Regions from separate parts of the Homo sapiens genome. Here region 2 is linked to region 1. Evidence: fine-mapped expression QTL. A gene starts in region 1. The other region holds a variant in brackets. All regions are shown on one strand. Distances are from middle to middle. Region 1 holds the start of KLK6 (kallikrein related peptidase 6). Region 2 overlaps KLK8 (kallikrein related peptidase 8).

Region 1 (12,184 bases):
CTCATTTGCAAAATGGTGCCAAGAGTCCCTTGTGGTGGGCATTCCAGGAAAGGTGTGTACATGGTTTCACTCAGCACCTGATTGGTAGTTAGCATCAAACAAGTGGCAGCTGTCGTGAATCTGACTAGTGAGGATCAGCGCCCAGGGTTTTTGTCCTGGGCCCTCCAGCTCCTCCAACTATGCCAGCTTTTTGGATGATCTCATCTAGTCCCATGGCTTTAAATACACCTGTTTGCTGACGATGCCTTCATTTTAACCTCCAGCCCTGACCTCTCCTCTGAGCTCCAGAGTCCTCCCTGGCCTCCCTGCTGGGACATCTCCCCGGCATCTCCAACTCATCGTGGCTAAAGCAAAATGTCAGATGCTCCCCTGCCTACACCCGGCCTGTTTCTCTTTCCCTCTCCCACAACTCAGAGAAAGACGTGGCAAAACACCCAGTTGTTCAGGACAAATACACGGAAGCCAGCCGTGCTTCTTCCTCTCCCTCCTGTTCCTCGTTGCCAGATTCTGCTGGCTCAGTCTCAGAATTCCACATCCCAAGATATTCAACATCCCTCCATCCCCACTGCGACCGCCTGGGTTCAAGCCACCCTCCTATGTCGCCGGATGAAAGCAACAGCCCCCACGTGGGCCTCCCTCCCTCTCTCTTGCCCAGACCACGTTCCACGTGGTAGCCAGGGTGCTTGTAAAAATGTAAATCAGGCTGGGTGTGGTGGTGGCTCATGCCTGTAATCCCAGCTCTTTGGGAGGGCGAGGCGGGCGGATCACCTGAGGTCAGGAGTTCGAGACCAGCCTGGCCAACATGGTGAAACCCCGTCTCTACCAAACATACAAAAATTAGCCAGGCAAGGTGGTGCACACCTGTAATCTCAGCTACTTGGGGTGCTGAGGCAGGAGAATCGCTGGAACCTGGGAGGCAGAGGTTGCAGTGAGCTGAGATCATGCCACTACACTCCAGCCTGGGTGACAGAGCGAGACTGTGTCTCAAAAAACAAACAAACAACAAAAACAAAACTGCCCAGTGGCTTCCTACTGTGCTCAGAATTAAATCCAAATGCCCATCACGCCCTGCAGGTCCCCAAATGATCCAATTCCCCCATTAGAAAGTAAGTTCAGGAAAACAGCAATTTTGCTTGTTTTTTTTTGTTTTCTTTTTTTTATTTTCTTTTCCACTGCTATGCCCGCAGGGCCTGGCACACATTAAGTACTCAATTAAGCAACAGCCGAATGCACCTGGCTATCAGATGGCCTCGTGCTGGGATGGGGGGGATGCCTATGTCACCTCCTGCCTGACATCTATAAGACACCCTCAGGGTTCAGTCGCATCTGCTGTTCATTTACAGTGTAGACTCACGGTTTTTTGCAGTGGGCAGCTGTGAGGACCCACAGTGGATGGATAAGGACCCCACCACAGAGCAAGTGGCCCGAGGTGTAGAGGGCAGCTTGGTAGGGGTGAGATGTCTTGTCGCAGGGTCCGCCATGCACCAACTTATTCTGCTCCTCTGCCCAGGCTGAGGGAGAGAAGATCTGAGTCAGAGAGGAGTTCTGGAGAAACCAAGCGCATCCCCCTCAACATGAACTCCAGTCAAGATTGGTCAGGTGCAGTGGCTTATGCCTGTAATCCCAGCTGAGGCAGGAGGATCGCTTGAGCCCAGGAGTTTGAGACCAGCCTCGGTAACACAGTGAGACCTCATCTCCACACACACACACACACACACACACACACACACACACACAAATTAGCAGGGTATGGTGGCATACGCCTGTAGTCCCAGCTACTTGGGAGGCTGAGGTGGGAGGGTCACTTGAGACCCAAGAGTTCAAGTCTGCAGTGAACTATGGATCATGCCACTACACTCCAGCCTGGGTGACAGAGTGAGACCCTGTCTCAAAAAAAAAAAGCTTCTCTGTATTTCCACTCCCAAACTTACCCCATTCCCATTACAAACCCAACTGTATCCCCTATTCCCGGGCTCTCTCCAACTTTCCAACCTACCTCCTACCTCTTCTATGTTTAGATCCCCATCCCTAAAGCCAACCCCACCCCAAACCCTCATATCTTCAAACCCACCTCCCACCACCCTCCCTATCTGTATTCCCCACCCTTAGCCTAATCCCCAACGTCTTCCTCATTTCAAAGCTCCCCCACCCCAACCCTGTGCATATCCCCATCCCCAATACCAGCCTCTTCTCCATCAACAAGCCCAACCCTGTCTGCAAGCCTCCCCCATCCAAATGCCCTTTCCCCACCTGCAGCAATCAGACTCAGCACCACCATCAGCTTCTTCATGGCCGCTCCTGAGAGGGGAAGCCACATGGTCCATTAGTCACTGCCTCGACCCTCCCCCCATCCCTCTGTCTGCTCCCTCTGCATCCTCTCCTTCCTTCCTGGCCTGCTATGGTCTCCTGCCTTGACCTCTGTCCTTCCCATCTAGCCTCCTGATTTATTCTTCCTCAGCCCACATCTTCCATCAGAGGATCCCACGAAAACAGTGCCAAAGAGAATTCAGAACTACGTCCACTGGTCCAGTAACCCATGGTGAGATTCTGATTAGATCTTTCTACTTTCTTGGGCACTGATTTGCCTTCCTGTCGACAGGAGAGGGTTACCCTAGGGGGCCCTAGCGTTCTTCCTCTGTATGGGAGTTTTCCTCGGAGCCTGGCTCTGTGCGCAATGGCCACCCACCCCGCCCACCCGGCAGGTTCTGTGATGTCTGTGATCTCACCTGCTGCAGGCCTCCGGGCTCCGGGGATTCTTGAGTCGGGGGAAGGAACAGCTTTGAGACGAGGAGGCAGAAAGAGTTAGAAATGCGGGGAGCCGTGAGGAGAGAAGACACTCAGATGCAGTGGCAGAGCCAAGCGGAGGACGCAGGGGCCGCAGAGCCCAGGGCTGCAGGGACTGCCAGACACACACCCCCAGCTCCCAGGCCTCCCTGGAAGAGGCTGGTTCTGTCCCCAGATGCTTCTGGAACGTCCTTTTAACCCCTGTCTCTCAGGTCCCTGAGCCAGGAGACTGGCTACACCCTTTTCCTCCTTACCCAGGCCTCCCACACACATTCCTCCCGCCCCCACGCTCTGCTCTTGGTGACCCCTGACCAGGCCTCCAGGGAAGGGAGCACTGGTCCCTGAGTGCAGTGAGGGCCTGGACTCCTGGGTCTGAGGGAGGAGGGGCTTGGGGGCCTGGACTCCTGAGTCTGAGGGAGGAGGGGCTGGGGGCCTGGACCCTTGCGTCTGAGGGAGGAGGGGCTTGGGGCCTGGACTCCTGGGTCTGAGGGAGGAGGTGAGAACTTGGACTCCTGGGTCTGAGGGAGGAGGGGCTGGGGGCCTGGACTCCTGAGTCTGAGGGAGGAGGTGGGAACTTGGACTCCTGGGTCTGAGGGAGGAGGGGCTAGGACCTAAACTCCTGGGTCTGAGGGAGGAGGGGCTGGGGCCTGAATCTGAGGCAGAGGAAGTTCTAGTCGGCTCAGTCCTTAGACCTCCGGGTTTTGGAGAAAGAAAGTGTCTGAAGACAAATTCCGGCCTCTGGGGCAAGCAGATGGTGCCCCAGGCCTCCCTGCACCCCCAGCACTCTCTGTGCCACCCAGGGACCTGCAGGCCCTCACTCCGGGCTCTAGAGCCCTCCGGCACTGGGAAGCAGCCTGCCCAGGTTCAGTGCGGTTGGGGTGACTCACACACCTGCCCGTAGGTCCCTCTGTGTGCTGCCTGCCGACCTCTGTGTCCCCAGGAGAGAGCGAGCCAGCCAGCCGGGGAGACAGCTACAGCGTGTGTCACCACACTGGCCCCCGCCCCTGCCCCGGGCTGGGGAGCAGGCCCAGGCGCGATGGGGAAAGGGCCCAGGAACAATCGGGCTTTGTCCGCCCCCAGCACCCCAGTGCCATGCTCCCAGCAGCTCCGGCCTCAACCTCTCTTCCGGCGGGCAGGCGGGAGGGCGGTTACATCAATGGCTTCCTTTTGTCCCTGTCTGACAGTCCTCCTTTGCAGTCTCTGACTGCCCACCTGGCCCTGACTGGAGATTTCGGCACTCCACATCCTCCTGGTCCTTCTCCTCCAAGTCTGCCCACCCCTGAGGTCTCTTGCTCCATCTGTCTCCCTGGCCATGGAGGGGAGGGAGCTTCCATCTCTCTCTCTCTCCCATCTCAGTCTCTGTATTTGTGTCTCTCTCCCTCTTTTTTTCTCTCTCTCCCTTCCTCTCTCCCTTCCTCTCTCCCTTCCTCCCTTCCTTCCTTCCTTCTTTCTTTCCTTCCTTCTTTTCTTTCTTTCTTTCTTTTTTTTTGACGGAGTCTTGCTCTGTCACTCAGGCTGGAGTGCAGTGGTGTGATCTCAGTTCACTGCAACCTCCGCCTCCTGAGTTCAAGCAGTTCTCCTGCCTCAGCTTCCCAAGTAGCTGGGATTACAGGCACCCACCACCACGCCCGGCTAAATGTTTTTTGTATTTTTAGTAGGGAAGAGGTTTCACCATGTTGGCCAGGCTGGTCTCAAACTCCTGACCTCAGGTGATCCACCCACCTTGGCCTCCCAAAGTGCTGGATTACAGGTGTGAGCCACTGTGCCCGGCCTCTCTCCCTTTCTTTCCCCTTGATTCTCTGACTCTCCGTGCTTATCTTCTCCTGGGTCTCTTCTTAGATTTCCCCGGGGGTAGCACTGTGTGTGCCCAGAAGGGAGTCAGTTTCCCCAGGAAGTAGCGGGGATGATTCCCGAGCGATGAGGAAGCTAGCAGGATGGAAGAGGACTTGAGGACTTATTGATGAGATGCGGACACACAGCGAGAGGCATGGAGTTAAGCAGAAATCGGAGAGCACTTGGGAACGACGTGGGGCTGTGATAAGATGGTGGTGCTGGGCAGTAGCAGAGGGATCTGGGAAGATTTAGGGAGGTGTCTTTGAACTTGGGCCTAGAAAGCTGAGCCAGGCGTAGGTCAGGAGGAAAGGCCGTGAAAATGCCTGGCCTGGGTGCACATGGGAAACCACAGGCAGTGGTTGGGGTGGTTGGTATGGGCTGGAGGGTGAGGGTGTGTGCGTGGCAGAGTGGAGAGAAATGAGGAGGGGGAAGTCACTGCGTAATAAGGACAATGATAGGAATGAAGTCTGGCTCAGCACCTGCTTGGGCTGGGCACTACAGGTAACTTAAAAAAAAAAGTTCTTTTTTCTTTTGAGACAAGGTCTTGTTCTGTCGCCTAGGCTGGAGTGCAGTGGCACGATCCTTGCTCGTGGCAGCCTCAACCCTCCTGGGCTCAAGCGACCCTCCCGCCTCAGTCTTCCCAGGAGCTGGGACCATAGGCATGAGCCACTGTTCCCAGCCAACCCTTTTCTTTGTCTTGCATTGAATCTAATTGTCATCTTGCATTGTGCACCCCCCATCACTCCAGGGATGAAGACTACTTCGGTATTCAGTATACTCTCCGGGTGCTCCCTCTCACATTTGGTCCCCACTGACCTCAGCACCTTCTTCTCAGGACGTGCTATCTTCACAGACAGCAAGTCTGATGTTGCACAACCCAGTGACCAGGCCCTATCCCTCTGCCTCCTCTCTCTGGGGGGTCCCTTCCTCTCTGTACCCACACCCTCAACCCCAACTCAGAGCTGCACCTCTCCCACCTGGACCAGGATCCCTCTGTTCTCTGTATCCCTTGCCCCAGAGAGACCTTCCTGTGCCTTGTGCTGACCTTGCCCCTCCTCTCACAGACGTGCCCTGGGTCCCCATCTCCCTTGGGACCAAGTCCCAGCCCCCCAGCCTGGCATTTGAGGACCTTTAGCATCCAGGGAAGTCCTGGCCAATGAAATGTGATGCCAAGCACGCATGCACATTTACATTTTCCAATCACCATACTTTTTTTTTTAAGTCAGAAGATTTTTTAAGTGTCCTTACCACAAAAAATAAGGGTGTAAAATAATGCATATGTTAAATAGCTTGGTTTAGCCATTCCACAACATATACATACATATATCAAACATGATGTTATACACCAGAAATATATACAATTTTTACTTGTCAATTAAAAAATAAATTTAAGGCCAGGCATGGTGGCTCATGTCTGTAATCCCAGCACTTTGAGAGGCCAAGGTGGGTAGATAGCTTGAGTCCGGAAGTTCATGACCAGCCTGGGCAACATAGTGAGAAACCATCTCTGCAAAAAGTAAAAAAATTAGCCAGATGTGGTGGTGCACACTTGTAGTCCCAGCTACTCCGGAGGCTGAGGCGGGAGAATTGCTGAGCCTGGGAGGTCGAGCCTGCAGTGAGCTGTGACTATACCACTGCACCCCAGCCTGACATGGCTGGGCAAGGTGGCTCATGCCTGTAATCCAAGCACTTTGGGAGGCAGAGGTGGGAAGATCACTTGAGCCTAGGAGTTCGAGACCAGCCTGGACAATATAGTGAGACCCTATCTCTAAAAAAAAAAACAAAAAAAAGAAAAGAAAAAAATTACCTAGGTGTGGTGGCACACATCTGTGGTCCCAGCTATGCAGAAGGCTGAGGTGGGATAGTTGCTTGAGCCTGGAGGCCCAGGTTGCAGTAAGCCATAATCACGCCACTGCACTTCAGTGTGACAGAGCCAGACCCTGTCAAAAATTTTTTTAAAAGGAGTCCTGAGTGGTGAGTGGCCCTCACACTGCATGACACAGCTATGTCTACGTCTCCGTGTGGCTCCAGCTTTCTAGAACACATCAAGCTTCCCTGACCCATGCCATGCCCTCTGGCCTCTGGCCCTTCACTGAATGCTATTCCCTCTTCTTCTTGAGATGGAGTCTCGCTCTGTCGCCCAGGCTGGAGTGATGTGGCGCGATCTCTCTTCGCCTGCTGGGTTCAAGCAATTCTCCAGCCTCAGCCTCCCGAGTAGCTGGGATTACAGGCACACACCACCATGCCTATATTTTTAGTAGAGATGGGGTTTCACCATGTTGGCCAGGCTGGTCATGAACTCCTGACCTCAGGTGATCTGCCTGCCTCGGTCTCCCAAAGTGCTGGGATTACAGGCGTGAGCCACCGTGCCTGGCCTATTCTCTCTTCTTAGCATGTTTTCCCCACCTTTTCCTGGCAATAACCTGTCCTTCAAGTCTTTACTTGGACATTACCTCCTCCAGGAAACCTTCCCTGAACACCACCCAGCTGCCACCTGCTGTAGTTGGATTACTCATTCTCTCACGTAGGTTCCCACAGCAGGTGTCTCCCTCAACCCAACCTGGACGGGGGGCCACCTGGATTGACATTCGTCATCTCTTCCACTGGACCGTGAGCTCCTTGAGGGCAGGTACGGGACTGACTCATCCCTGTGTCCCAAGCAACCACACAGGACCTTGCCCAGAAGAAGCCTTAGGCAAGACTGACCAAATGACTAAATGACTTTATCACACCCACTCCCATTTTACAGATAAGAAAACTGAGGCTCAGAACGGGAAGTTCATTGCTCATCATCAAACATCCAGGAAATGGTGGAGCCTGAATGGGAACTCAGCTTCCAACATGGCGTGGATGTGGCCCATCCCTTGGTGGCCTGGCTGGGTCTATCTTATGACAGTACGAGGTGAGTGAACTTGGGAGGAATTGTTGAGAGCTGGGTGGGGAAAGAAGGGAGGTGTTAGGCTGTGGGGAGTGGAGGGACTTTGAAGAGAAAGAAATTTCTAACTCTACCTCTTCTCTGGTGACCTTCATGGTTTGCCATCTCTGCATACTTTGAATGCTTATTTACTGGATAGTTTGCTCCAGATTGTCTTGCTCTGCAAAACTCTTCACTAAATAAATTCTTCTGTCTCGGTGCAGTGGTTCACACCTGTAATCCCAGCACTTTGGAGGGCTGAGGTGGGAGGATTACTTGAGCTCAGGAATTAGAGACCAGCCTGGACAACATAGTGAGACCCCGTCTCTACTAAAAAAAAAAAAAAAAATCAGCCCAGGCATGGTCCCAGCTACTCGAAAGGCTGAGGCAAAAGGATTGTTTGAGCCCAGGAGACTGAGGCTGCAGTGAGCTATGATCATGCCACCAAACTCTAGCCTGGATGATAGAGCAAGACCCTATGTGAAAAAAAGAAAAAAAAAATTATAAGGAAACTTCATGAGACTGTAAGCAGAAAAAAGTGCCAGAAGTCATAAACAATAAAAACCAATGCCTGGGCCAGGCGCGGTGGCTCATGCCTGTAATCTCAGCACTTTGGGAGGTCAAGGCGGGCAGATTGCCTGAGGTCAGGAGTTTGAGGACAGCCTGGCCAACGTGGTGAAACTTGGTCTCTACTGAAAATACAAAAATTAGCCGGGCATGGTGGCAGGCACCTGTAATACCAGCTACTCAGGAGGCTGAGGCAGGAGAATCACTTGAACCTGGGAGGCAGAGGTTGCAGTGAGCTGAGATCGCGCCATTGCACTCCAGCCTGGGTGACAAGAGCAAGACTTTGTCTCAAAAAAAAAGAAAAACTAAACTAAACTAAACTAAACTAAAACCAATGACCATTGAAGGAAGGCTTACCTCGTGCCACACAATGTTTGAGCACTTTCTGTATATTAACTTATTGAATCTCTGTAATAACCCTAGAAAGTAGGTGCTTTTTCTCCCATTTCAAGGATGAAGGAACAGGGACAGGGGAAGTAATGAGCTTAAAGGAAAATAGCTTGTAGGGACTAGAACTGGGATTTGAACCCAAGAAGCCAAGATCCAGAGCTAGTCCCTTAACTACCACACTATACTGCTTACCCAAAGAAAAATGAATTACTTAAAAAAAATCAACATTAGTACCATCTCAGTCATTGCAAACCAATCTACCTGTAGCTTGCGTATAGGAGAGCAGAGGGCCAGGGCCAGGGATCTCCAGGCTGACTTAGTGCAAATGCAATGTTTTGTTACTTTTTAAAATTCCAGATTGAATGTTGGAGTGCCTTGCAGAAGAGAGAGAAAATGTTGCTAAAACTTCAGGGGAATGACTGGTCGAAAATGTTTGACATTCTTAAACTTGACAGGCCCAGAAACAGAAGGGGCTGGGGACCTGGGCTCCTGGGTCTGAGGGAGGAGGGGTTGGGGCGGGGGGTCTGGACTCTTGGGTCTGAGGAAGGAGGGGCTGGGGGGGAGCCTGGACTCCTGGGTCTGAGGGAGGAGGGGTTGGGGCGGGGGGTCTGGACTCCTGGGTCTGAGGAAGGAGGGGCTGGGGGGGATCTGGACTCCTGGGCCTGAGGGAGGAGGGGCTGGGGGGAGTCTGGATTCCTGGGTCTGAGGGAGGAGGGGCTGGCGGCGGGGAGCGGTCTGAACTCCTGGGTCTGAGGGAGGAGGGGCTGGGGGGAGTCTGGACTCCTGGGTCTGAGGAAGGAGGGGCTGGGGGCGGTCTGGACTCCTGGGTCTGAGGGAGGAGGGGCTGGCGGGGGGGGGGGTCTGAACTCCTGGGTCTGAGGGAGGAGGGGCTGGGGGTAGTCTAGACTCCTGGGTCTGAGGGAGGAGGGGCTGGGGGGGAGTCTGGACTCCTGGGTCTGAGGGAGGAGGGGCTGGGGGGGAGTCTGGATTCCTGGGTCTGAGGGAGGAGGGGCTGGCAGGGGGGTCTGAACTCCTGGGTCTGAGGGAGGAGGGGCTGGAGGGAGTCTGGATTCCTGGGTCTGAGGGAGGAGGGGCTGGTGGGGGGGGTTCTGAACTCCTGGGTCTGAGGGAGGAGGGGCTGGGGGGAGTCTGGATTCCTGGGTCTGAGGGAGGAGGGGCTCGTGGGGGCAGGCCTGCACTCCTGGGTCTGAGGGAGGAGGGGCTGGGGCTGGTCTGGACTCCTGGGTCTGAGGGAGGAGGGGCTGGGGGGAGTCTGGATTCCTGGGTCTGAGGGAGGAGGGGCTGGGGTTCTGGACTCCTGGGTCTGAGGGAGGAGGGGCTGGGGGGAGTCTGGATTCCTGGGTCTGAGGGAGGAGGGGCTGGGGGGTCTGGACTCCTGGGTCTGAGGGAGGAGGGGCTGGGGGCCTGGACTCCTGCGTTTTCTGTGTTAGCCTCCTATATGGGAGAATCAGAATTAGCGGCTGCAGAATTTCTGCAATATGACAGGGCTGTGGTGCCTGGGTTAGGAGAGACTCAGAGGGAGATGAGATAAGGAGGGGAAGGATCTGGAGGATCTTGGTGGGGAGGGAATTCTGGGAGAAAAACAGGAAGAACAGGTAGGAGGGCGTGTCCTGGGCTGGAGTGGCTCCTCGGTCAGCAGCGTCTGAGGTGTGACCACACAGAGGATCTTTGATGTTAGATGGCTGGGGCTGTGGCCAGGCTCTGAGTCACAGAGGACTCCTCCCTCATCCTACCCGCTTCCCGAGGTTCCTTTCCCTCCCTTCTTGGGGAGCAGGTGCCACCATCTTCCTCCGGCACTGTTTGCTTACTTCTGGCAGACCCCCGTGGGACCCCTGTGTCCTGTCTACTGTCATCCCAATCCCTCTGAAAACCGCCAGCCTCCCTCCTCACTTGTCACTCGTGAGATGCTCAGAAACACTTTCACACCCCTTCCCACGCTGATGAAGTTGGCCTGTTCTCTCCTCCCTCCTCCCTTCCTTCTTCCTCTCTCCATCCTTTCCTCTCTCTCCCATTTTACAGACAGGAAAAACTGAGATCTGGGAAATGGAAATATGCCCTGGAACAGGGCCGGCAGGACCAGGGCTCAAAACCAGGCACATATTTCTTTCTAGTCTCCCTTCCTGAAAGGTCACCTCTCTCCAATCTTAGATCTTCAGACTTTTTTCCCCACCTTTATTTTTCATGTTATAAAAGTGCACATTCAAGGAAAAGTACACAGAAGGAAGGAGACACCTCATGACGACCCCAGTATGCAGTCTGGGACATGTGTTTTCAGATCTGATTCTGTGAATATTTCATTTTTTATGGGTAGGGTCACATACATATATATTTTTGTCCTTCCTTTTGTCATTTAACATCCTATAGCCTAAATGTTCTTGAATAATACTGACAATTCTGTCTAAGTATCATTTTTAATAGGTTTGTAATATCATTGTGGGCTGGCCGTGGTGGCTCATGCCTGTAATCCCAGCACTTTGGGAGGCCAAGGTGGGTGGATCATCTGAGGTCAGGCGTTCAAGACCATGCTGGCCAACATGGTGAAACCCTGTCTCTAGTAAAAATACACAAAAAATTAGCCTGGTGTGGTGGTGCACACCTGTAGTCCCAGGTACTTGGGAGGCTGAAGCACGAGAATCACTTGAACCCAGGAGGCGGAGGTTGCAGTGAGCCAAGATTGCATCACTGCATTGCAGCCCAAGCAACAGAGACTCTGTCTCAAAGAAAAAAAACATCGTTGTGCCAAGCCAGACTATTATTTAAGCCATCTGGTACTTTTGGAACATGTTTGATGGTTTCACTTCATTTCTGTGATAAATAATATCATGGTAAATTCAAGTCTTGTTCTACATTTTGGATTTTTTTTGTTTCAGTAGGTTCTTCCTAAGATTAGAGTTACTGGGTCAAAGGTGGTGAATAAGGGTCTCGGTGTACGTTGACCAAGTGTCTTCCGTAAAGACTGTACGAACGTCCAGTTCCAGTGTTTGAGAGTGCTGGTCTCACTGACTCTTCTCCAGCACTGAGGGTTTTGTGTTTCTTTATTTGTTTTGGTTTTAGGTCTTTACCAATTTGATTGGTTTATCAACAGGGCATGAGGTTGGTTTAAATATATCTTTGAGGAAAGGTAAAGTCAAATTTGACTTCATAGGTCATCGGCGTCCTCACTCCTGTGCATTTTCTGTTGGAAGCACACAGTTAATTAACTCAGTGTGGCGTTAGCGATGCTTTTTCATGGTGTCATTTATCCACTTGGTGAACTTGCACACTTGAGTGTAGACTCCTGGGTCATTGGGTTGGCCGCAAGGGAAAGTTCCCCAGGACACCAGACCTTGCAGGGTACCTCTGCACACCAACGGTCCCCCTGAGTCACCCTAGAGGGAATAGAGCCGGAGATTAACTTTGGCTTCAGATCAAAGCCCAACTCATTCTCATACATTCCTCAGTTATCGGTCTTTGTCTTGCAGATTATGGACTTCCACCATAGCCAATGAGAAGAGACTCATTGTCTCTGGGGACTAATGGGAGAGCTAGTGCTAGGGACACACTAGGTCCTTTGAAGACACTGGTTTGACCCTTGGCCAATGAGACCAATTGCAGAGAAGGGGTGGGGCTTCCAGGATCAGAGCACTCTTTATTTTCCAATGTTAAGGACCCTGCTCCAAGCTAGTGGGAGAAGGA
Region 2 (12,184 bases), 20 kb after region 1:
AGGAACAGAAAACCAGATATGGCATGTTCCTACTTACAAGTGGTAGCTAAATGATGAGACTGCATGGACACATAGAGGAGAGAAGAATCTTTCTTATTTTTTTTTTTTTTTGATGGACTCTGGCTCTGTCACCCAGGCTGGAGTGCAATGGCACGATCTCGGCTCACTGCAACCTCCACTCCCCCGTGTTCAAGTGATTCTCCTGCCTCAGAGTCCTGAGTAGCTGGATTACAGGCGTGCACCACCATGCCCAACTAATTTTTGTATTTTTAGTAGAGATGGGGTTTCACCATGTTGGTCAGGCTGCTCTCCAACTCCTGACCTCAGGTGATCCACCGGCCTCGGCCTCCCAAAGTACTGCGATTATAGGCCTGAGCCACCGCGCCCAGCCAAGGATTTTTGCTAAATGAGTAGATTATAGCTGCTCTTGCCACAGGGGAGGAAAATGGGTAACTATGTGAGATGATGGACATGTTCATTTGTTCAGCTATAGTAATCATTGTCCTATGTATATACATCGCATATGATCATATTGTACACTTTAAATATACACAATAACATTTATTTTTTAAAAAGAGGAAAACTTTTCCCTCTTTGTACATTTAGATTACTTTTCCTTCCTTTATAATGGTTGTGTAATATTCCATACTATACTTGTATCATGATGCATGTCATCTGCCTCAAATTGAAATACACTTGGATAGTTTTAATTATAATAATGCTGAGATGAACTTCTTTGTACATTCATCTTTGTTCATTGTAGTCATTCAAACAGCATCCATTGAGCATCTACTCTGTGCCAGAAACTATTCAGGCTCTTGGAGACACAGCAGTGATAAAACAGAGAAAAATTTCTGTCTTCATAGAGGTTTTTGTTTTGTACTGTCAGGTCAGCACAAAAATAAGCAAATAAAATGTAGAGTTTGTTAGGTGGTTGTAAGCGCTATAAGGGAAAATCCAAGCAAGGAAGAGGGTTGGGGAGTTACTGATTCCCTCTACCCTCGAGGATCCCTGAGGTTATAATATCAGGAAGGTTGGCTGCAAAGACCCCACGTGAAGGTGATATTTGAGCAAAGTCTTGAAGGAGATGGTGGAGGGATCCAGGTGGCTGCTTGAAGGTAGTGAGTTCCAGGCAAAGCGAGCAGGCAGGTGTGTTAGCCAAGGAGCATATCTGAAGTGCCTCAGCAGACAAATCACTGCGACCAATACAGAGTGACCAAAGGAGATGAGGGCAGGTGATGAGGCCAGAAATATAACAGGACTCTGATGACATGCGGTCTGAAAGGTCTTTGGCTTTTATTTTGAGTAAGACAGGAACCATTGTTGGACACACTTCTAAAGTTGGAATTGACCTCAACCTCTAAATTATATCCCCAAAATGGGATTTATTTCTCCACCCTGGACCTAAAACTTATCTCAATCCTGACCCCAACTCAATTCTTTTTTTTGCTTTGTTTTGTTTTGTTTTTGTTTTTGAGATGGAGTTTTGATCTTATTGCCCAGGCTGGAGTGCAGTGGTGCGATCTCAGCTCACTGCAATCTCCGCCTTCCAGGTTCAAGCAATTCTCCTGACTCAGCCTCCCGAGTAGCTGGGATTACAGGCATGTACCATCACACTTGGCTAATTTTTTTTTTTTTTTTTTTTAGTAGAGATGGGGTTTCTCCATGTAGGTCAGGCTGGTCCCTAACTCCCGACCTCAGGTGATCTGCCTTCCTCAGCCTCCCAAAGTGCTGGGATTACATGTGTGAGCCACCACGCCTGGCACCCCAACTCGATTCTACATTTGACCCATAATAGTAGACATTATTGTTGTGTCCCCAGGCATTCACTCCTTCTGCCTTTCTATCAGAGGCTCCATTTTGTTTGGATAATACTTTATCCTCATCAGGACTATAAGCCTCAATGAACCAAGCATTGAAGCCATATTTCGTTTGCTTAATTAGTTGGAAAATGGACATGTGCTGTTCTTCTGGCCAATGAGGAGGAGGGGAAGACCACTGAGGCACTTCTAGGAAAGACTTTCTCATTTTCAAAAAGAGGCACTGAAAGGGGACTTTTTTCTTCTGCTAGATGGTGTCTTTTCTGGATGCAAATTCTGGAACTGTGGCAGCACCCCAGGGACCACAGAGGGAAGTGACCAGAGGACTAAGTCAAAACACTGCAGGTAGCCCACCAGAGAGGTGAGGATCAGCTGGGTCTTTGATGAAGTCACTGAGCTGGTGAATTAACCAACGATGGAGCCTCTTCATGTCATGATTTTTCAGATTCCCCTTCTGGGTTAGAGTTGCTTGGTCCTTGTAGCCAAAATCATCTTTATAAGACCTCAATGTTCAATCAGAATATTGACTCAGATCCCAAATCTGATCCCAAGCCACAAATCCAAATCCGATTCTAACTTGATTCCATATCTTGAAGCCACATAAATCAACAAACTCAACCATGCCTCCAGTCTTAGCTCTCTTCCCAACCCTCATCCCCATATCCCATTTCAGCCCATATCCCATTTTGGCCATTGTTAATGTGAAGATGACCAATTTAATTTTTAGAATAGTCTTTTTTAAAAAAACAAATTAGTAATTTGGATCCTATAGCTGACTACCTCTCATCTAAATTTAATTTTTTCTTAGTTTTTCTTCTATACAGTGGATTTCTTATTTTTTAGGGAAAAGTTGTTGATTGTTTATGCAATAGTTTAACACCAATCCTTTATATATTTAACAAATATGGATTGGGTGGTAGCTATCTACCAATGAGGATACAATGGTGTGCAAACCTAGATAGTGTCTCTTCCCTCAAGGAGCTGATAGTGTCATGTAAAAGAAATACAGTCAATTCATAAACAAGTGTAAAATTACAACTACAAGGCATGCTCTGAAAGACAGGTGCAGGGTATTATGAAGGCACTTCCAGAGGGGTTAGACCCAGGAATTGACTATGAGCTGAGATTTGAAAGAATATTAAACTAGAAGAAATCTTCTAGGAACTAGAAGTAGACTAGAAGAAATCTTCTAGTAACTAGAAATAGTAAACTAGAAGAAAATTTCTTCTGGTAACTAGAAGAAAATTTCTTCTGGTAACTAGAAGAAAATGGGAGGAGAATGGGGAGTGTGTTGTGTAGAGAAAAGAGCATGTGCAAAGGCCCAAGGCATTATTGCTGGAGCTCGGAGGCCAGAGGTTAACTGGGACCAGATAATGACGAGCTCTGTATGTCATTGTGAGTCTTGCTTTATCCTGTGGATAATGAAGAACTATTTGAACCTTAGTCAGAGAAATAACATAACAAGATTTGTATTTTCAAAACATCAACCTAGCTACTGTATGAAGGCTGGATTTGGGTGGGATGTGAAGATACTGGGCAACCATGGGGGAAGTCATTGTTGTTGTCTAGATGAGGGAAGATGGTGACTTGGATACAGGTGGTTGAAAGGTGGAGACGATGTTAAGTACATGGGTTCAAAATGCACTTAGGAGAGAGAATCAACAAGCCTTGGTGATGGATTGAATGAAGGTTGTGTTGAGGTAGTGGAAGATGTTAAGATTTCAAAGTCTGTTGCTCGATGGACAGTGATGCCATTCATTGAGAAGACATGGTAGATGTGGTCAAATGGTTCTGATATGACAAGAAAAGACCTCAGACCCTGACTTCAAGCAGAACCCTAAATCCAACCTTTACTTTGACACAACTCCCAACACGTATTTTGACATAAGCCCCAGCCTTTTTGTTTGTTTCAATAGCTTTCGGGGTACAAGTGGCTTTTGGTTACATGGATGTATCGTATAGCAGTGAAGTCTGAGATTTTAGTGCACCCATCACCCAAGTAGTGTATATTGTACCCAATATTTATAGTGTTTTATCCCTTATCCTCTTCATACCCTCCCCCTTCTGAGTCTCCAGTGTCCATTATACCACTTGGTACCCACTGCTTAGCTCCCACTTACACATGAGAACGTAAGGCATTTGGTTTTCCATTCCTGAGTTACTTCACTTAGAATAATGGCTTCCAACTCCATCCAAGTTGCTTCAAAAGACATTATTTGATTCTTTCTATGGTTGAGTAGTATTCCGTGGTGCATACACATCACATTTTCTTTATCCACTCATCAGTTGATGGGCACTTACTTTGGTTCCATATCTTTGCAATTGTGAATTGTACTGCGATAAACATACGTGTGTATGTGTCTTTTTGATATAGTGACTTCTTTTCCTTTGGGTAGATACCCAGTAGTGGGATTGCTGGATTGAATTGTAGATCTACTTTTAGTTCTTTGAGAAATCACCATACTGTTTTCCACAGAGGTTGTACTACTTTACATTCCCACCAGCAGTGTATAAGTGTTCCCTTTTCATCACATCCATGCCAACATCTATTGTTTTTTTGACTCTTTAGTAAGCCCCAGTCTTAACCCCAAACCTTAATCTGTACCCAATCCTGAACCTCAAATTCTGCTTTATCCTTGATGAACCCCAATTTGTATCTCAACCAATAACCTAAATCTTGACTGAGTTCTTGACTCCAAATATCAACTCAGGCTAGGATCCAGACCTCAATCAAACTTAACCCTCCTGACCCTTGACCTTAACCCTGAACCATTAGCCATAAGCCAAACTCAACCTTGACCTGAGCAGTGAATGTCACCATAGCCTGAGTATCAAGCCTGCCACGGGATAATTCAGACATTAGTCTCCATTCCCATCATATTCTAGGAAGCCCACATTCATATCCTCCCCCATGAACCCATTCCCTCACATCCAACACCAATTCTAACACTCTCACCCCATCCCACCCCTATTCTCATCCTCAACCCAATTGCTACCTAAAATCCCATTCTCATTTCCATCCCCAATTCTTTTCCCAGTTCCATTTTTATTTCTCCAGCTCACCACACAACTTTGACTCTTCATTTTACAAAAACTCTAAAATAAAGTCTGCCAACGAATATCTTGCTAACATTGATGCTATACTAACTCAACTCAAGCCGAGTCCCAAAATCTTCTGAGACATTTACTGTCATCGAATCCAAAATCAGATCCCCGAACTTGGACATCTAGCCCTGCCCATTCCACAGCAGCAATCTGGTCGTGAAGGGTGTCAACATTCCTGACCTGGGCTCCCAAATCAAGGAGAAGCAGACTCCAGCCCAGTTGACCTCACAGCTCCATGATTCAGCAATCTGTATCTTTCCTTCCTGGCTTCTCAAAGACAGAAATGGTAGCAAGACTTCCAGTGTATTATCTACTCCCTGCATCTTCATCCTTAGATTCTCTCCTCCCTCAGTCCTCTGCCTCCTTAGTATCTGTTAGAAAGAGGAAGGAGCCAGGCTACTCTAGAGCCCTGTTATTCACTCCTAAGTCACCAAAACGTCTATCCTCTGCTTTTCATCATCTATCATTCTGTAAATTATATTCCTAATTATTTAACCTGATTTTGTTGCCAAACACTGGTCATCACAAGCAGAGGAAATGTGTGTGGGGTTCTTTTTTTTTTTCCAGCACCCCGCCCAGACCGGAGAACACAGGAGGTACTTAAATAAATACTAGTCTGCAAACTTCTGGCATCCACAGGTCCACAGGCCTTAGATTCAGTCCTGCCTTGATCCCTGAGCTGTTCCACCATGCAGTGTGACAGAAAGAACTAGAAAGAACTTGGACTTTCAACCCAGCTTTGAATCCTGGTTGCCCACCCTGTGACTTCGGGTAAGTGACTTCATTTTTCTGAGTCAGACTTTGCCCCTCCCCAAAGTGGAGGAGAGCAAAACCTATTTACCGAGGCAAATGAGAGGATTAAATAAAATTATGAATGGAAAATTGATGGGCACATAACAGCCAGTGAATTAACATGAGTTCCCTCAGCCCATCACCCACGGAATGAAGAAGCAGCTCCCATTTTCCCCCCTACATTTAGTGTGGTGTGTCTGTATTCCTCACATTGGTCCAGGTGAGGATTGTCATCCCCATTTTACCTTTATTTTTTGCCGCCTGCCCCATCATCCCCATTTTATAGATGAGAAAATGGAGGTTTAAAAAAGGCTAGATCACTTGAGCAAAGTCACAGAGCTGAGGAGTCAGAAGTGTCAGAATTCAGCCAGGCGTGGTGGCTAAAGCCTGTAATCCCAACACTTTGGGAGGCCGAAGTGGATGGATCACTTGAGGTCAGGAGTTCGAGACCAGCCTGGCAAACATGGTGAAACCCCATCTCTACTAAAAATACAAAAAATTAGTCGGATGTGGTGGCATGTGCCTATACTCCCAGCTACTCAGGAGGCTGAGACAGGAGAATCACTTAAGCCAGTAAGCAGAGGTTGCAGTGAGCCGAGGTTGCACCACTGCACTCCAGCCTGGGTGACAGGGCAAGACTCCATCTCAGGAAAAAAAAAAAAAAAAAAGCCAGAATTTGAACATTGGGATTCAAAGGCCTATGGTATCACTACTGCACAAATCCATACTCTGAGAAGGAAATTTCCTTGTTACATCCACATGTACCCTCTGAGTCTCATTTGGTTCAAAACAGACTTGGATCGCCCTCAGCCTATTAATGATGCATACCCCCATGTCAGAGAGAGGCCCATATCCAGGCCCCCTGTGCCCTTTGCATTTAGTCCTGGCACCTGTTGCTAAGTGTCATCCAGACACCCAGCCCCATACCTCCATCGTCCTCAGACCTATGTCCTGAACCTTTGTTAAATGACTCATCTTCCACCTTATGATCACACCTGAGAACTGGCATCTGATAATCTTGCCAGCTATGCCTTTCCCTGAGGGATTCTGAACACTGTGACCCTCGTACCTCCTGACTCAGCCCATGGGTTCTGATGGCCCATTGTTTCATACTTCCTGGATTCTCTTCCTCCTTATTTCTTTCTTTCTTTCTTTTTTTTTTTTTTTTTTTTTTTTTTTTTTTTTTGAGACAGAGTCTCACTCTGTCACCCAGGCTGGAGTTCAGTGGTGCGACCTCAGCTCACTGCAACCTCCACCTTCCGGCAGAACCCCATTTCTTTTGGGGGAGATGCTGCCTTATTTCTTATAGTTCTGGTGAAACTGTCAATCGTAGTTCTCCAACTCCACCCAC[C/T]CACTGAGGCGGAGAAATGACCCAGGCCAAGTCAACAAGATCAGTGTTTTCTCTCTGGCAACAATGATAGATTCAAGGGGTGGGCCCAGTTCAAACTGGACCAATTAGAGTTCCTCCCTGGGATTAATATCAAGATGCCAGGAGAAAGGAGATTTTTGTTTCTGTTAGTAGCTGCTATGTTCCCTCCATGCCCCTCCTTAGTACCTAAGATTGAGTAAATCAATCCCCAAGTCTTTTCAGGCTTATGTTCCACTGGAGACATTAAAGTATCTCCTGGACCAGCCTAGGCAACATGGTAGAGTCCTAGCTCTACTGAAAAAAAAAAAAAAATGGCTGGGCGTGGTGGCACATGCCTGTGGTCCCAGCTACTCAGGAGGCTGAGGTGGGAGGATGGCTGAAACCCAGGAGGTAGAAACTGCCTTAAGCATTGTTTGTGCAATGCTCACTGTACTGTAACCTGGGTGACAGAGTAAGACCTTGTCTCAAAAAGGAAAAAAATCTCCTTGGCATTGGATGATACTAAGAAAGTATCAACTGTGTAAGGTGTGATAATGTAAGTTGGTTATGTTTAAAACGAGTCTCTTTTGGAACAAGGATTGGCAAATTTTTAAAATAAAGGGCCAGAGAGTAAATATTTTAGCTTATGTGGACCAAGAGAGAAAAATGGAAGATATTATGTAGATATTTAATAGCAGGAAAGAAAATAAAATTTCACAATTTTTAATTGATGAAATTCAAAATGTAGTAATGATAATTTAGTACAAATTTTTTGTTGCTATTCCTTATCAAGCTCACGCCTGTAATCCCAGCACTTTTGGAGGTGGAGGCAGGCAGATCACTTGAGGTCGGGAGTTCAAGACCAGCCTGACCAACATAGAGAAACCTTGTCTCTACTGAAAATACAAAAAATTTTAGCCGGGCGTGATGGTGCATGCTTGTAATCCCAGCTACTCAGGAGACTGAAGCAGGAGAATTGCTTGAGCCAGGGAGGCGGAGGTTGCGGTGAGCCGAGATCACGCCATTGCACTCCAGCCTGGGCAACAAGAGCGAAACTCCATCTCAAAAAAAAAAAAAAAAAAAAAAAATTTAGCTCAGGAGATTTGGTCCAACAGCTGTAATTTGCCATCCCCTGTTTTAAAAATGCATAATAAAATATTTAAGAATGAGATGTTGTGGTGACTGAGATTGCTTCAAAATATTCTGGCATTAGGGAAGTGTGTGGTGGGAGTATAGGTGAAACAATAATTGGTTTTGCATTAACTTTTTTTTTGAGATAGGGTCTCACTCTGTTACCCAGGCTGGAGTGCAGTGGTACAATCATAGCTCATTGCAGTCTCAACCTCTCAGGCTCAAGTGATCCTCCCACCTCAGCCTCCTGAGTAGCTGGGACCACAGACGCATGCCACCATGCCCAGCTAATTTTTTAATCTTTTGTAGAGACCAGTCTCCCTATGTTGCCCAGACTGGTCTTGAATGCCTGGGCTCAAGCAATCCTCGTGCCTCGGCCTTTCAAAGTGCTGGGGTTACAGGCGTGAGCCACTGCACCGGACCTTGCATTCATTATCGAAGTTGGATGGTGGTATATGAAGACACATTATGTTATTCTATTTTGCATGTGTTTGAAATTTTCCATAATAAAAATTATAAAACAATTCTTTGAGTTGAGATGTCCCCCCCAGAAATGCATCCCTGGCATCAGAAGTTTAATGCCATGCTTGAAAGACTTCCTCAGGATTTCTGGTATGGGGGAACTGTCATAAAGCATCAGGGAGATTGATGAATGCAAGGTATCTCACACACCCACGCCCCTTGTGGAGAATTGCCTTCCCATAGCACTAAGTGGCCATGTTTCATATCACATGACTCCAAGTAGCCACTGATTGGCTAAGATTTGGTCACCTGACTGGGATGCCATCAAATGATTGGCCATTCAGTGACCAATGATGTGGCTGAAGAAGAAAAGGTGAGCTAGATGAATCAGATTCTCTTTCATGAGACTATTTTCTAAAGATCCTAGTGAAGGAGGAGGCGGGGTTTAACTCTGGACTAGATTGAAGACAGCTGGAACAGGGAAAAGGCACCAAAAGCACATCTCCATAAGACGTGCACACCAGCACCATGACAGTTTGCCACTGCCATGACAACACCCAAAATTTATCAGCCCTTTTCTAGAAATTTCTGAATAACCCACCCCTTAATTTGCATGTAATTGAAAATGGGACTAAATATGACTACAGAACTGGCCCTGAGCTGCTACTTTGTGCTCAATGCCTATGGGGTAGCCCTGCTCTGCAAAGAGCAGTACCTCTGCTACTGTGCAGTACTGTTTCAAGAAAAGTCACTAACACCACTGGGTTGCCCTTGAATTATTTCCTGGACAAAGCCAGGAACCCTCCCTGGCTAAGCTCCAGTTTTGGGCCCACCTGGCCTGCACCACTAGAAGAGTGACTATATCCTTGTAATAACTACCCCCTCCACACTCATCTTTCCCTAAAACAAGTTATGTTAAGCCTTTGCTTTAATGAAAACTTTCCCAAATGCCCTTTGCGTCACACTTCAATTTGGACACACCACTCATTTCCTTCTACCACAGCAGACACCACCAGATGGCTCTAGGCTGTGAGAAAGAGTTCTATCTGGATTTTTGGGAGCTCTCAAGATTTTTGACCCGAGTGGTGGTTTCATGGTTGTTCATTTGTGAATATTTAAGCTGTTCATATATTTTCTGCACTCTTTTCTATGCATATCTCCCAATGTTTTCCCTTTTCTTCTTTTTTTCTTTTTTTTTAAATAAAAATAGAGATGAGGTCTTACATTGTTGCCCAGGCTGGTCTTGAACTCCTGGGCTCAAGTGATCCTCCCACCTCAGCCTGTGAAAGTGCTGGAATTACAAGCATGAGCCACCATACCTGGCACAATTATTATTATTAATTTATTTGTTTATTTATTTTGAGACCGAGTCTTGCTCTTGTCACCCAGGCTGGAGTACAATGGCATGATCCCTGGCTCACTGCAACCTCCGCCTCCTGGGTTCAAGCGATTCTTCTGCCTCAGCCTCCTGAGTAGCTGAGTTTACAGATGCCCACCACCACACCCTGCTAATTTTTGTATTTTTAGTAGAGACGGGGTTTTGCCATGTTGGCCAGGCTGGTCTCGAACTCCTAACCGCAGGTGATCCATCCGCTTCGGCCTCCCAAAGTGCTGAAATTACAGGCTTGAGCCACCGCACCTGGCCAATTATTTTTTAAAGGGGGAAAATTTTATCTCCAAAGCTTGTAAATGCTTTGCTCAGGAAAACTAAACACAAACTCTTTCAAAACTGTCTTTCACATACCAGCCCACTGAATGTTTGAAGACCTTTGTATGTATTTTCTCCCCTGAAATAAAGCTCTTACCCAAGTTCTTCCAGAAAACGAGGGATCACTTTAGGCAGTGGTGATGGCCAAAGTGACCATGAGAACTTGGTTTCTGCACATCCCCACCTAGTCTGCCAGCAGGAACAATCCCGGATCCCCATCCAGCCCTCCCCACAGGGCCAAAACAGAGACAGGCAAGGAACCAGAGAGTTGTGAGTTTATTAAGGGAGATCTAGTGCTTATCCTAGAATCAGCCCTTGCTGCCTATGATCTTCTTGATCCAGTCCAGGTAGCGGCAGATGTTGGTATAGACGCCAGGTTTGTCGGACCTCCCACAGGGGTCTGAGCCCCAGGATGTGATGCCCTGGAGTGCACCATCACACACCAGGGGGCCTCCAGAATCGCCCTAGACAGGGAGAATGAGAACAGCCTTGCATCTGAGATGTCCACAACGTCCCTTTTCCTGCTGTCCCAGCGTTTTACCAGTTCTTTGGCATGATTGGTCCCCTGTAGCCAATGGGGGTAAAAGCATTGTCCCCTGAGACCAGTCAGGACAGGGCTTGGGGCTTCCATGTACAGACAGACATGGTGTCTAAGGGTAGTGGTCAAAACACTGACAGAAGAGGGGAAAGAATGAAATCCCAGACAGGCTTGGTGGCTCACACCTGCAATCCCGGCACTTTGGGAGGCCGAGGCGGTAGATCACTTGAAGTCAGGCGTTCCAGACCAGCCTGGCCAACATGGTGAATCCCTGTCTCTACTAAAAATACAAAAACTAGCTGGGTGTGGTGGTGCACACCTGTAATCACAGCTACTCGGGAGGCTGAGGTGGGAGAATTGCTTGAACTGGGAGGCAGAGGCTGCAGTGAGCCAAGATTGTGCCACTGCATTCCAGCTTGGGGGACAGAGCGAGACCCTGTCTCAAAAAAAAAAAAAAAAGAGTTCTCGAGGGTCCAATCCAGGGAGAAGACAGTAGGGATTACTTGGAGAGGACTGAGCTGAAGTTTCCTCTGTTCCTGGCCAATAGTGAAGGCATCATTGATTGCAGTTGCCAAACATAGGAGAAAGGATCAAGATTCTTATGGACACACACACACACACACACACACACACACACACACACACACACACCATATCCCCAAGAGACCATGGCTGAAATATTTGTGGAAGAGACCACTATCTCTACAGAACAATCCAGAGACTGGCTTTCATGGCAGTATCGCTGATGGAAACGACTCCATTTTTGGCCAATGGGGAAGAAAGCATTGTATTTAGGGACCAGTCATTGGCAAAGGTGGTGGGGCTTCCAGGAAGTGGACAAAGCCAGGGGAAAGTGCTAGGAACAACGAAGTTGCAGTTAGAAGAGAGAGTTATATCTATGACAAATCCCAAGAGAAAGGGATTGGAGCTCATTGAGGAAGCACTGAAGTCAATGGCACCATTTACTCCAGCCAACTGGGAAGACACCATTGTCTCCCAAGGAACCAATCACAGGAGAAGGGAACCAGCCTTGGGATTCTAGCCCGGTCTCAAAGAAAAGTGGCTGACCACCGGGCCGGTGGTAAAGTCGGCACAAATTCCACGATGTAATGCTGGGAACCAGAGAGCAGGCAACTCGTCTAAACTCTAGCCTCAGACTCTCTCCTTGCTGGACATCTACCCCACCCTCTATAGCCCCCAACTCTGCATCCCATCCTGTAGTTAAGCGTTCGAAAGAAAACAGCAGCAGCAATTCAATGCTCCTAATCCCTATGCAGTGT

What was found. PIP is the estimated chance that this variant, and not a neighbour inherited with it, causes the effect.
Region 2: its variant is fine-mapped to the expression of KLK6 in tibial nerve (GTEx, PIP above 0.99).

Annotation. Positions count from the first base shown.
Region 1 is chr19:50,965,815-50,977,998 of GRCh38, forward strand. It overlaps KLK6 (kallikrein related peptidase 6), which reads right to left and starts at 3,777. Exons shown (of 7, transcript NM_002774.4): 1 at 3,676-3,777; 2 at 2,727-2,777; 3 at 2,251-2,298; 4 at 1,355-1,511. The coding sequence starts at 2,290. LOC105372442 (a long non-coding RNA gene) reads left to right here. Exons shown (of 7, transcript XR_007067308.1): 3 at 1,511-1,674; 4 at 2,459-2,539; 5 at 7,146-7,246; 6 at 7,367-7,519; 7 at 8,846-8,912. It overlaps KLK7 (kallikrein related peptidase 7), which reads right to left. Exons shown (of 6, transcript NM_005046.4): 6 at 10,654-11,877. The coding sequence ends at 11,722.
Region 2 is chr19:50,985,385-50,997,568 of GRCh38, forward strand. KLK8 (kallikrein related peptidase 8) reads right to left here. Exons shown (of 6, transcript NM_007196.4): 6 at 10,624-10,830. The coding sequence ends at 10,675. Among named protein-coding and RNA genes, the nearest start is that of KLK7, 7.6 kb to the left of the region's middle. RefSeq lists a silencer at 5,075-5,275 and an enhancer at 8,829-9,123. The variant C/T (reference allele first, on the strand shown) is at 7,069.